Linked DNA regions of Homo sapiens: region 1 is linked to region 2. Evidence: fine-mapped expression QTL. A gene starts in region 2. The other region holds a variant in brackets. All regions are shown on one strand. Distances are from middle to middle.

Evidence for each region. PIP is the estimated chance that this variant, and not a neighbour inherited with it, causes the effect.
Region 1: its variant is fine-mapped to the expression of GCOM1 in blood mononuclear cells (TOPMed, PIP above 0.99).

Annotation. Positions count from the first base shown.
Region 1 is chr15:57,563,112-57,568,493 of GRCh38, reverse strand. No RefSeq gene overlaps it. Among named protein-coding and RNA genes, the nearest start is that of GCOM1, 26 kb to the left of the region's middle. The variant G/A (reference allele first, on the strand shown) is at 3,044.
Region 2 is chr15:57,589,236-57,594,617 of GRCh38, reverse strand. GCOM1 (GCOM1, MYZAP-POLR2M combined locus) reads right to left here and starts at 2,714. Exons shown (of 17, transcript NR_104371.3): 1 at 2,509-2,714. It overlaps MYZAP (myocardial zonula adherens protein), which reads right to left and starts at 2,714. Exons shown (of 13, transcript NM_001018100.5): 1 at 2,509-2,714. The coding sequence starts at 2,583. RefSeq lists a silencer at 2,716-2,825.

The sequences.
Region 1 (5,382 bases), 26 kb after region 2:
AGCCCTTAGACCACAAGCCTTCATGAACCAGGATTCTGAGCTGCTCAGGCTTAGAAAACACACAGCTCTCCTGGGAGTTGAGTTTTGAAGGGGGTTCACGCACAGAATCTAGTTATCTTTTTTTTTTTTTCAGGGTGAGGTGACACACAATAAAATGTTAACACAGAGAATGCTTGGGAATTTATAAACTTTGGTGAGGAAGAGAGGTAGAAACATGGTTTCTCTAAGGAGCAGTCATGCTTGACATTTTCAGAGGAAACTGGCATACACATTGATGCTAATGTTGGGGGAAACAGTTGTGTGTGATTTATAGATGATGAAAAACATTTGACAAGAATCTTTTGCAAAGGCTATCCTTTTTAAGGAGTCATGGCTGTAAGGAATGTTCTCTCAGGCATAGAGAACGGGTTTACAGATAAGAAAGAACACTCATAAACAGCAACTGCCCTGTGGAAGAACTGTAACCCCAGGGCCTTCTAACTGCTGGGCCTACCATCAATTTTTCGCTTCTTTTAAAAACTTAGCGATTGCATGTTCACTATTTAGGAACACAAACTAGCAAAAAAAAAAAAAAAAAAGGAAAATTTCCTGAAAACCTGCCACCAATCTTAGCTTTTTCACAAACGATCTTTGTATAAGAAGAAAGATGTAGAAAAATCTTCTGGTTTGGACCGGGGGTGGTGGCTCACGCCTGTAATCGCAGCACTTCGGGAGGCTGAGGTGGGCGGATCACGAGGTCAGGAAATCAAGAACATCCTGGCTAACGCGGTGAAACCCTGTCTCTACTAAAAATACAAAAAAAAAACTAGCTGGGCGTGGTGGCAGACGCCTGTAGTCTCAGCTACTCGTGGGGCTGAGGCAGGAGAATGGCGTGAACCCGGGAGGCGGAGCTTGCAGTGAGCTGAGATCGCGCCACTGCACTCCAGCCTGGGCGACAGTGCGAGACTCCGTCTCAAAAAGAAAAGTCTTCTGGCTTGGACACCGTACTAAGTTCCTACAACGATGCCAAGCTTATGGCCTGCACACAGAGGGGGAGTCTTCTAAGACTAGCTTTGAGGGAGCCTCAAAAGCCATTTTGCTCTATCATAGCACCTGACATCTTCATCATTACTGATACATTTATACTAGGGAAATATTAGGACTCAGTGAGTCTCTTTAGGAAAAGCCAGCATCTTATTGGCCATTACACACCTTAGCAGCGGTTACATTGCTATACTAAGGCCAACACCTTGGAAAGCAGAGCATAAGGCTCTGGAGAAAAGGGAAGTAACACGGTGCTTTGCAAATTGCAAAGACCTGTACAAAGGGAATGTTGTTATTATTGGTCCAAAGCAATGGGATTCTGGGTAAAACTGTGATAGAGGCTCTGCACCAAAGACATCAGACTCATAGGTCAGCAATGCCAATAAAACTCGGATATCAGTACGAAAACTGTGGGTCACCAAACAGAGACAATTGTCTAAACAACATGTGCAGTCACGAGACATGCAGGCCTGGTATCCCTGCCAAGAGGGTGAGAGTTGTATGGAAAACTTCCTCTGCACTCTGGAATTGTGCCCTGTGGCTGTGACTGCCTGGCTTTTACAGACTTCATGGTAACTGCAATTAAAAATGCAACAAACCCTCATACATGACAGGTGGGATTGTAAAGTTATATAGTCACTTTGAAAGACAATTTGACAGTTCCTCAAAAGGTTAAACATCAAGGTACGTTATCACCCAGCAATTCCATGCCTGCAATGTACCTAAGAGTATTGAAAACATATGTTCAAACAAAAACTTGTACACAAATGATCACAGCGGCATTCTTCATAATAGCTAAGATGTGGAAACAACACAAATATCCATCAATTGATGGATGAAGAAACAAAATTTATATTTTGTTTGTGTTCTATTTATACAATGGAATACTATTCAGCCTTAAAAAATAATGAAGAGCTGATCCATGCTACAATATAGATGAACCTTGAAAACATTATGCTAAGTGAAAGAAGTCAGACATAAAATGCCACATATGATTCCATTTATATGAAATGTCCATAATAGGCAAATTCATAGAGATAGAAAGTAGATTAGTGGTGGCCAGGAGCTGGGGGATTTGGGTGGGGAGAATGAGAAGCTACAGTGGGTATGGGATTTCTCTTTGGGGTAATGAAAATGTTCTGAAATTAAACAGTGGTGATTGTTACACAACTCTGTGAACGTATTCAAAGCCCATGTATTCTACACTTTAAAAGAGTGAATAATATGGTATGTAAATTATGTTAATAAAGGTTTTTTATTGTTGTTGAGATGGAGTCTTGCTGTCACCAGCCTGGAGTGCAGTGGCATGATCTCAGCTCACTGCAACCTCTGCCTCCCGGGTTCAAACAATTCTCCTGCCTCAGCCTCCTGAGTAGCTGGGATTACAGGTGCGTGCCACCATGCCTGGCTAATTTTTGTATTTTTAGAAGAAACAGGGTTTTGCCATGTTGGTCAGGCTGGTCTCAAACTCTGCCCTCAAGTGATCCACATGCCTAGACCTCCTAAAGTGCTCGGATTACAGGCGTGAGCCACTGTGCCTTGCTGGAAGCTACTACTAAAAGAAAATACCTGAAAACTCAAAGACTTTTTATTCTTTCCTACCCACTGGCCAGAGATCTCTTAGCCTTCCCTCAGTATACTAAAAGTACATGAGTAAATAGTCTGCCAGAAAGGGTGGAATAACCTGGGGACTATTACACCGTACAGTAGCCAATTCCATTTTTCTTTAATAACTGGCAATGAACACTCCCAGGCGTTTTCATTGTTCGTGAAAACTCTGCTTAGAACACAGAACAGAATCAGAGGTACAGGACCAGCCACCGAAGTTACACCTCTGGTTTGGTTGTCTGATTCAGGAAGGAAGAAGGTCAACTCCACAAGCCCCACCCTGGCAGGTGTGCGGAGCACGAGGGGGCCTTCCTGAGAGAGCAAGGAAGTGGGGCGGGAGATATCCCTGCTGACGAAAGAGACAAAACCACATCCAGCCAGGGGCTGCTGTTGCAGTATGGAGTTCCCCTCC[G/A]CGATGTGAGCAAACAGAAGAGAGAAAACGCCATCTCATGCCAGGATCCTTTCAAATAGGTCTCTTTCCCAGCCAAGCCTACTTTCTGCAACAGTTTTTCCCTTACATACGAAGCTTCTAGCAAAACACCCAGCATAGAGTGGGAGCTCAGTGAATATTTGTTTCATGAATTAATAGCAACATTTCTTATGATGGCAAACAAAAAATAAATAACTAAAATGTTCTACAATGACCTACTGGGTCATGCACATTTATGGTATGCCCATAACTAGGCAAGTCATTTAATATTTCTATGCATAATTTTTTTTGCTAAAATAGAGTAATAGTACCTATCTCACAGGGTTATTGTGATGATTAAATGAGCTTAGGTATATAAAACAAATAGAATATTGCATAGCATATAAAAATTACAAAACAAATGTTAACTATTAGTATTATTATTCCATGGAATACAGTGCAATTATTAAAACTGTGTTGAAAAAATATATTCTTTTGAAAAAAATTTTTGAGAAAATATCTTTTTATAGCTGAAAAAATTCACAATAATTTAAAAAAATAAGCTATGTAATAGCATAAACAGTAAGATTCCACATTTTGTGAAATAAACATCCATGTAAAGAAAAAAGTGTACACAAATATACATAAAAATATTTATAGTAGTTATTTCTAAATAGTGAAAGCAAGGGGGACTTTCTTTATTATTAATTGCTTATCTATTTTTCAACAGTCAGTATAAATTATTTGAGTAAGTATAAAAATTAAAAATCCAATTGAATCAGAAAAGCATTCATATTATTTGACACACTAATTCCAATTTGAGGATACTATTCTTTAAAAAAAGTCCCAAGTACCAAAGAAAATATTGCCTATAAGAATTAGGTAAAGTGCCAGGCGCGGTGGCTCACGCCTGTAATCCCAGCACTTTGGGAGGCCGAGGCAGGCGGATCAGGAGGTCAAGAGATCGAGACCATCCTGGCTAACACGGTGAAACCCCGTCTCTACGAAAAATACAAAAAAATTAGCTGGGCGTGGTGGCGGGCACCTGTATTCCCAGATACTCGGGAGGCTGAGGCAGGAGAATGGCATGAACCCCGGAGGCGGAGCTTGCAGTGATCCGAGATCGCGCCATTGCACTCCAGCCTGGGTGACAGAGCGAGACTCTGTCTCAAAACAAACAAACAAACAAACAAGAATTAGGTAAAGTGTGATGATTTTTCTATAAATTATAGAATAATATATAATGAGTTTAAAAGATTGATGTTCAAAATAGGCGTCAAAAAGCATTAGAGTAACGCTTGAAAATATTAGAAAATGCTATCTATATTAAGTTAACTGGGATACAAATGACTAGTATCTGATCTCAAGCATATAACAAAAGTAATCATTGGCAGAAACAATAGCTGACTCTCTGCCCTTTGTTGAAGTTAACTATATTTGTCACCTTTTGACCAGAACAAGGTGGATTCTTTCTCAACAATTTACAAATTAGCCAGAAACCCCTAAACTTAATAGAACTTCAGTTCTTCCAGGTGGAGGGTTGTCCTGTGACATAAAACTAAAATCATTAAATCTATCCAGTCTAGGAAGAGAAAAGCCCAAGAGGAAATATGCTGTCCATGTATGAAATCATAAACGTTCAGGTAAATATAGCCCTGTTCATTTATCAAAATGTGAGACAAACAAAAGTTATTTTAATTCTATCAGTATTTGTCAGGCACCTGCTACAAACAAAGATGAATAATGAGACAGACTTTGTCCCGGAGAAGCTCACCACCTAATGATGTAGGAAAAAATAACTATAATCAGCTAACCACAGTCCGGAAGCGCTGCAAGAGAACAAAAGACCACAGGAGCCCAGGGAAGGGGGAAGTTTGGATTTGAAGCATCACCTGGGACGTAACCTTGATGCTAAACCTTTACACTAAAGCATGAACATGGTTTTGGTAACCGGCAGACTGAATGGTCAAATTCTAAGCAGGGATGCCGTCCTTCACTGAACCACTGATGGGCACTGGGGGTAGCTGATCACTCTTAGGGCTGTGTCCCTGTGCACTTGCAGAATGTGTCAGCATCTCAAGTTGACAACTTCTTGAGAAGTTGAGGGAATGATGTGGAAGAAGGAAAAGAGCTCAACAGCCCAAATCCAAGAAGCAGATCTTTAAGCGCAATGCAGTGTTTTAAAGCCTGCTATAGGAGTACATGAGAGGGGGACCACACTTAAGCACAGCCCATTTAAAATGCTTTAATTGCCTATCTGTGCAATAAGACTGAACCAAATGAATATTGACAAATCCGCTAACATAATCTAGTCTTGCCTTGCATTTATAAAGGTTAGGACC
Region 2 (5,382 bases):
TAGGCGATATGAGATAGCCTACCATTCCAACCACCGTCATATATCCTGGCTACTGTTGACCAAAATGTGGTTATGCAGTACATGATTATATATGCCAAGTATTCCATTGAGATGGTTATTTCCTCCTTTCAGTATCCCAATAATGTCAATTCCCCTACAAATTCTACTCATCCTGCAAGATTAAACTCAAACATCACCAGTAGGCGGGGCTGGGTGGCTCATGCCTATAATCCCAGCACTTTGGGAGGCCGAGGCAGTTGTATCACTTGAGGTCAGGAGTTCAAGACCAGGCTGGCCAAGATGACAAAACCCTGTCTCCACTAAAAATACAAAAATTAGCCAAGCATGGTGGTGTGCGCCTGTAGTCCCAGCTACTCGGAAGGCTGAGGCAGGAGGACTGCTTGAACCTGGGAGGTGGAGGCTGCAGTGAGCCGAGATCGTGCCATGGCACTCCAGCCTGGATGACAAAGTGAGACTCCATCTCAAAAAAACATACCTTTAGTGAGAGGCCTTCCCCTGATGCCTCAGGAAGAACCTTTATTTTAGCTTCTACAGAACTTTGTAAACTCTTCACCCCACTATAACCATCACCACTTTGTTTGATGTTAGTTTGGGAAAATGTCTGCCTCTACAGGTAGGGCGGACCCCAATGCCAGCCCTTTACCACACAGAGAAAGGTTTATGAATGTTCAATAAATCAATTAATCAACATCTCACAGCTTCCCACCACACACACAATCCCCAGCACACACACAGATAGTACTTGTAACATCTGCAAATCATGAGCAGAGCTAGAAACCATAAAGATGGGCAGAACCCTAGACCCTTTAGATACCTTCCTTCCAGAAACAAGTACCAGTGTACCCAGGACAGCCCTGAATGGCCTGATCCCGAGCCCTGAGTTCTCCAGTCCAAAATACGTCTGCCATCTTATTCAAAAGGCAAAGTCTTTTCAAGAGTGTCACAATGTGTCCGACAGCAAAGCACCTATAATTAAATAAATATTCCAAAGGAAACGTTTGACCCAAAATCTTCAGAAATGTTATTTGTATACTAGTCACATTTGTATCAACCCACCGTATTAGGTTAGGTACCCCAACTAATCCCCACCTCTGGAAGGGAAGTTACAGAGAATTTCATGCAATTCATGCAGTCTGGTCACACATATGATCCTCTCAGGGCTCAGGGTTAGCTTTTCAGTGACTTCATTCTTTCTCAGTTGCAATTGTGTTCAAATTGAGAAAGATTTCCATAGAAAAATACAAACACCCAACTTAGAGTAAGGCCAGGACTGTGGTTGGAAACCCCCTTGGACCCAATGTAGATCTTACTCTATGATGCTAATGATTGGACAACTGGAGTTCTGTCAACCTTGGGCATGAGCCAACTGATGGATTCTGGGGTGTGTGTGTGTGTGTGTGTGTGTGTGCGCCTGTGTACACAACCTAAGTGTCTGGTGAGTGCACGCACACACACACCCCAGAATCCATCAGTTGGCCCATGCCCAAGAGTAACACACCTTTCTTCTAGAGCTAAGAAAGACAGCTTATAAGGTGACCACCATCACTCGCTTAAGGCATGTAAAAGCAAATAAGCAGGTCCAAGCCTGCACGCAGACAGAACCAGTGGGGGTTTTGCTTTGGACTTAACCACCTGTTTAAATCTTGAGGAAACACGATTACAGAAGTCTCAATCAGAGCAAAGAGGTACCAAATGATAAGTATTGAACATCATGATAAATGGAAGAACTAAAAAGCCACAAGCCAAGCCCCTGGCTGTGGCTCTAAGGTGCTGACCGTGTTAGAAAGATGGAGCATTTCTTTTACAGAGCATCTGGAGAGATGGGAAAAGATGCCACAAAGATCAAAAAGAAACAGCACTTCCAAAGGGAAACCTTCCCTGGAGATGCTGTCCCAAGCTTTCAGTGCTGCCATTGTTGTCACTGTGCTAATATTTAAATCAGACAGAAGAAAGTGGTTTACATAAACCGGAGTCCCACACAGTCGGGCTCCTGGGCGGCCGGCTGCTGTTCTGGTTTGCCCACCTTGGCTAACCCCACTCCAGAATTACCCTATCACTAGTGGATACCCTATCACTAGTGGACACAAGTGACCCCATCTTTCTTTTAATTAATGGAAGAAGGAAAGTTTGAGTTTTAAATACATTCATTACTTTTGAGTCTCAAGGTAGGGACACTGCACAAATGTCTTCCTTCATTTTTAAACTGGTGCCGCCAATAAACTCGGCTTGACAGAAAGGCAGGAAGGAGAGGAAATCTCTGGGAATTCCATAAAGTCCCCTAAGCCCTCTCCTACCAGCTGGTGGGCCCCCTGAAACCTCAAGCGGGAGGGTCACTGCCAGAGCCGGCACAGGACCGGGGAGTTGAGCCCAGGGTGGGGCGTCGGGGCCAGGTGCTGGCTCCCGAGCTTTCCCATCCCTAGTCCCCTCTAGAGGGGGCGGCCGGGATGGGGGAACGGGACGGCGGCGGCTCCCGCCCCCGCTACTCACCCTCCTGCTGGGCGCCCCGGGCGTCCTGGCGGCGCCGCCCGAGAGCAGGGTGACCGTGGACGTGGAGCGCAGCATCCCGCAGCGGCGGTCGGTAGCGGGCTGGACGCCGGCGTTCCTCCCGGGCAGAATAAGCGTGCGGGGCCCGCCCTGCGCGGGGGCGACGCGGGACGGCGCCGGCTACTTGCAGCCTCAGCTGCACCGCGAAGGCCCGGGGGTGGGGCCGGGGGCGGGGCCGGGCCGGGCCGGGGCGGGGCCGAGCGCGCTCACCCGACCCGTCAGGCTGCATTTTCTCCCGAGGGCGCCGACCCGGTTAAAGTTGAGCACCATCCTCTCCCAGGGCGCTGCGCCCTCCCAGGGTCAGTCCCAGGGCAAGAAGGAGCCCTGGACAGCCTGGACGCCCATGCTCTCTCTGTCCCCCGCAGAGTTGAGATCCACCTGCCCATTCAGTCTCACGACCTACCCCCACCCCGGACTGCCCCCTACAGCCTCTGCACGCCCTCGTATCACTGGGACCCTCACCCCATGTCATTCATTCAGTATTTCCTGAATGCCTATTATGCGTCCCCACCAGCAGCCAACCCAGTCGACTGGCTGTTGGCCTCGGAGAGTTTGCAGTGTGGTGGGGATGACAGGTGCCGGGCTGTGGTAGAAGAGGAGATACCATGTACTAAGGGAGCACACAGCCAACCTCAGAGGAGGTGATGACTAAGCTAAGACCTGAAATGCAAGTAGGAGTGGGCCACACTGCCCATATTTATTCAATGATTACTGTGGGCCTGCCTGGCGAGCACTTTGCGTGTGTTACCTCATTTAATCCTCACCATTGCCCTTTGAGGGAGTCACTGTTGTTACCTTGTATCCCCATTTTGCAGATGAAGACGCTGACTCACCTAGGGATTGAGCAACACAGCAGGCGACCCACTGGCCTCTCAGTGGCAAAGGTAGGATATGAATCCCCCAGTCCGACCCTAGTGCCTTGCTTGTCCCCTCTGCTGTCCCCTAACAGAGGGAGGAGGGAGTCCCAGGTCAAAAGAACTAGCATGCACAAAGATGGAAGGAAAGCAAGGGAAGGTATAAAATATGTTTCAAGAATTGGAAGTATCACAGTGCAGTGGGAAAACAGTGGAGAAGCAGCGGAAGGGAGCTGAGGACATCATGAGGAACCTGTGTGCTTAGCTGGAAATTTGGCCTTTATCTTGAGGACAAAGTGTTTTTCAGCAGGGAAAGACACAATCTCTGTCTTCAAAGCCCAGGTCAAGCACTGCCTCCCCACGGAGCTCTCCAGAAACCCCTTCCCCAAACACGCATGCTCAGGAACTTAGCAGCTCCGCGGGACCCTGTCTTCTGTTAGAGTTATCTATGTGTGTGCCTGTACCCTGTCCTTCTGGAGGGCAGAGGCCAGGCCTTGACCCTCTCTGAATGCCCAATGGCACCAACAGGGAAGATGCTGAAAAAAAAATGTTGCTAAACAGAATTACAGATGATCCTGTGGAACTCACTCCTTTTGTAGATGAGGAAACTGAGGCCGGTGTATACAAGTGACTTTCCCAAAGTTGCACAGCCTGTTCTTCACCATCCTCATCGTCATCCTCACAGTAGCTGTGCTTGTGTCCTAAGTGCTTTATATGCATTTTCTCAACCAATTCTCACAATGCCCCACAAGGTGGGCTACAGTTATCGCCCCTGTTTTGCAAATGAGGAAACTGAGGCCAGAGACATTAGGTTAATTGGTGAACAGCTGAGACTACACATCTAGTCTTCTAACCCAAGTCCTTCTGCTTTTCTGCTACACTCCTCTCTGCATCCTCCCATCCACCTATCCCTTCCAAAAAGAAAATTGTTCATGACAGGTTCCTTCCCATTCCACTTCCACGAAGCCCTCTAATCTACCCAAGTCTTTTTCATATTGTTAACATCCTATTCACACGGTGTTATATTTCTTTACAAAAGCAGCAGACAGCTCACTAGCTTGTGAGCTCTGTGTAGAAGCTGGATCTTGTTTACATCTCTGCCTGTCCAATATCTAGAGCAGGTAATTGACGTGTGGTAGTGCAAGTAAATGTGGAAAGAATGAAGAAATGTTATTACAGAGTAAGATTTCAACTCACTCATGGTCATGAAAAACAGAAACTAAGATCCTTGCCAACCCAGCTCCTAGGGTGGGCCAGGGACTCCAAGCAATTTGGCAGCTGAAGCAACAAGAGCCCCAGGGTTGTCCCAGCCAGGCCATTTCCCCAAAGCTGGCTGACAATCGCCAAGGGCTGTGGGTGGTGTGTCCAGGCAGATGCCAGGCCCTGGCTTATGCCACAGCTCCTCCCTAATAGGCCAGCACTAGGAATCTGAGGTCATAAGGAACTGCAAGAGAGAGGAGAGTGGGGAGCCCAGAAAGTGGGAAAGAAGGAAAATGGGAAGACAAGTAGGACTGAAATCAATGGAAAAGTGGATCTAGAGTGGAGAGGAAAAAGTAAAAAATGAAGTCACAGTCACTGGTTTCCATTAATATTTCTGAGAGAAGATGATTTTTAAAAAAAGATGGACTCTTTTCAAAAGAGGAATCAAAAGCTGAGAACTTCTGCCCAGTCAGCAGTCCTCTGGAGTCTACAGAACTGAGAGTGGGGAAGAGGGCCAATGGGAGGGGAACAGGGATAAGGGTCTGGTGTAGAAGTTCTCCACATTCCCTTGCAACATGACTCATCTACTCCAGACCCTCTGAGCATTGGTGATGAAGGGGTTGCTAGTGTTTGGGCTGGAGAGAACGGGAGCTATGACAAAACTGTCTTAGCTGTCATCCTTTTCTATCCACAGAAATAGCCACATAGGCCTAAGAGCAGTCCTGAATTTCTCTGCTAAAGCACAGGTGTGTAGAAAATTCCA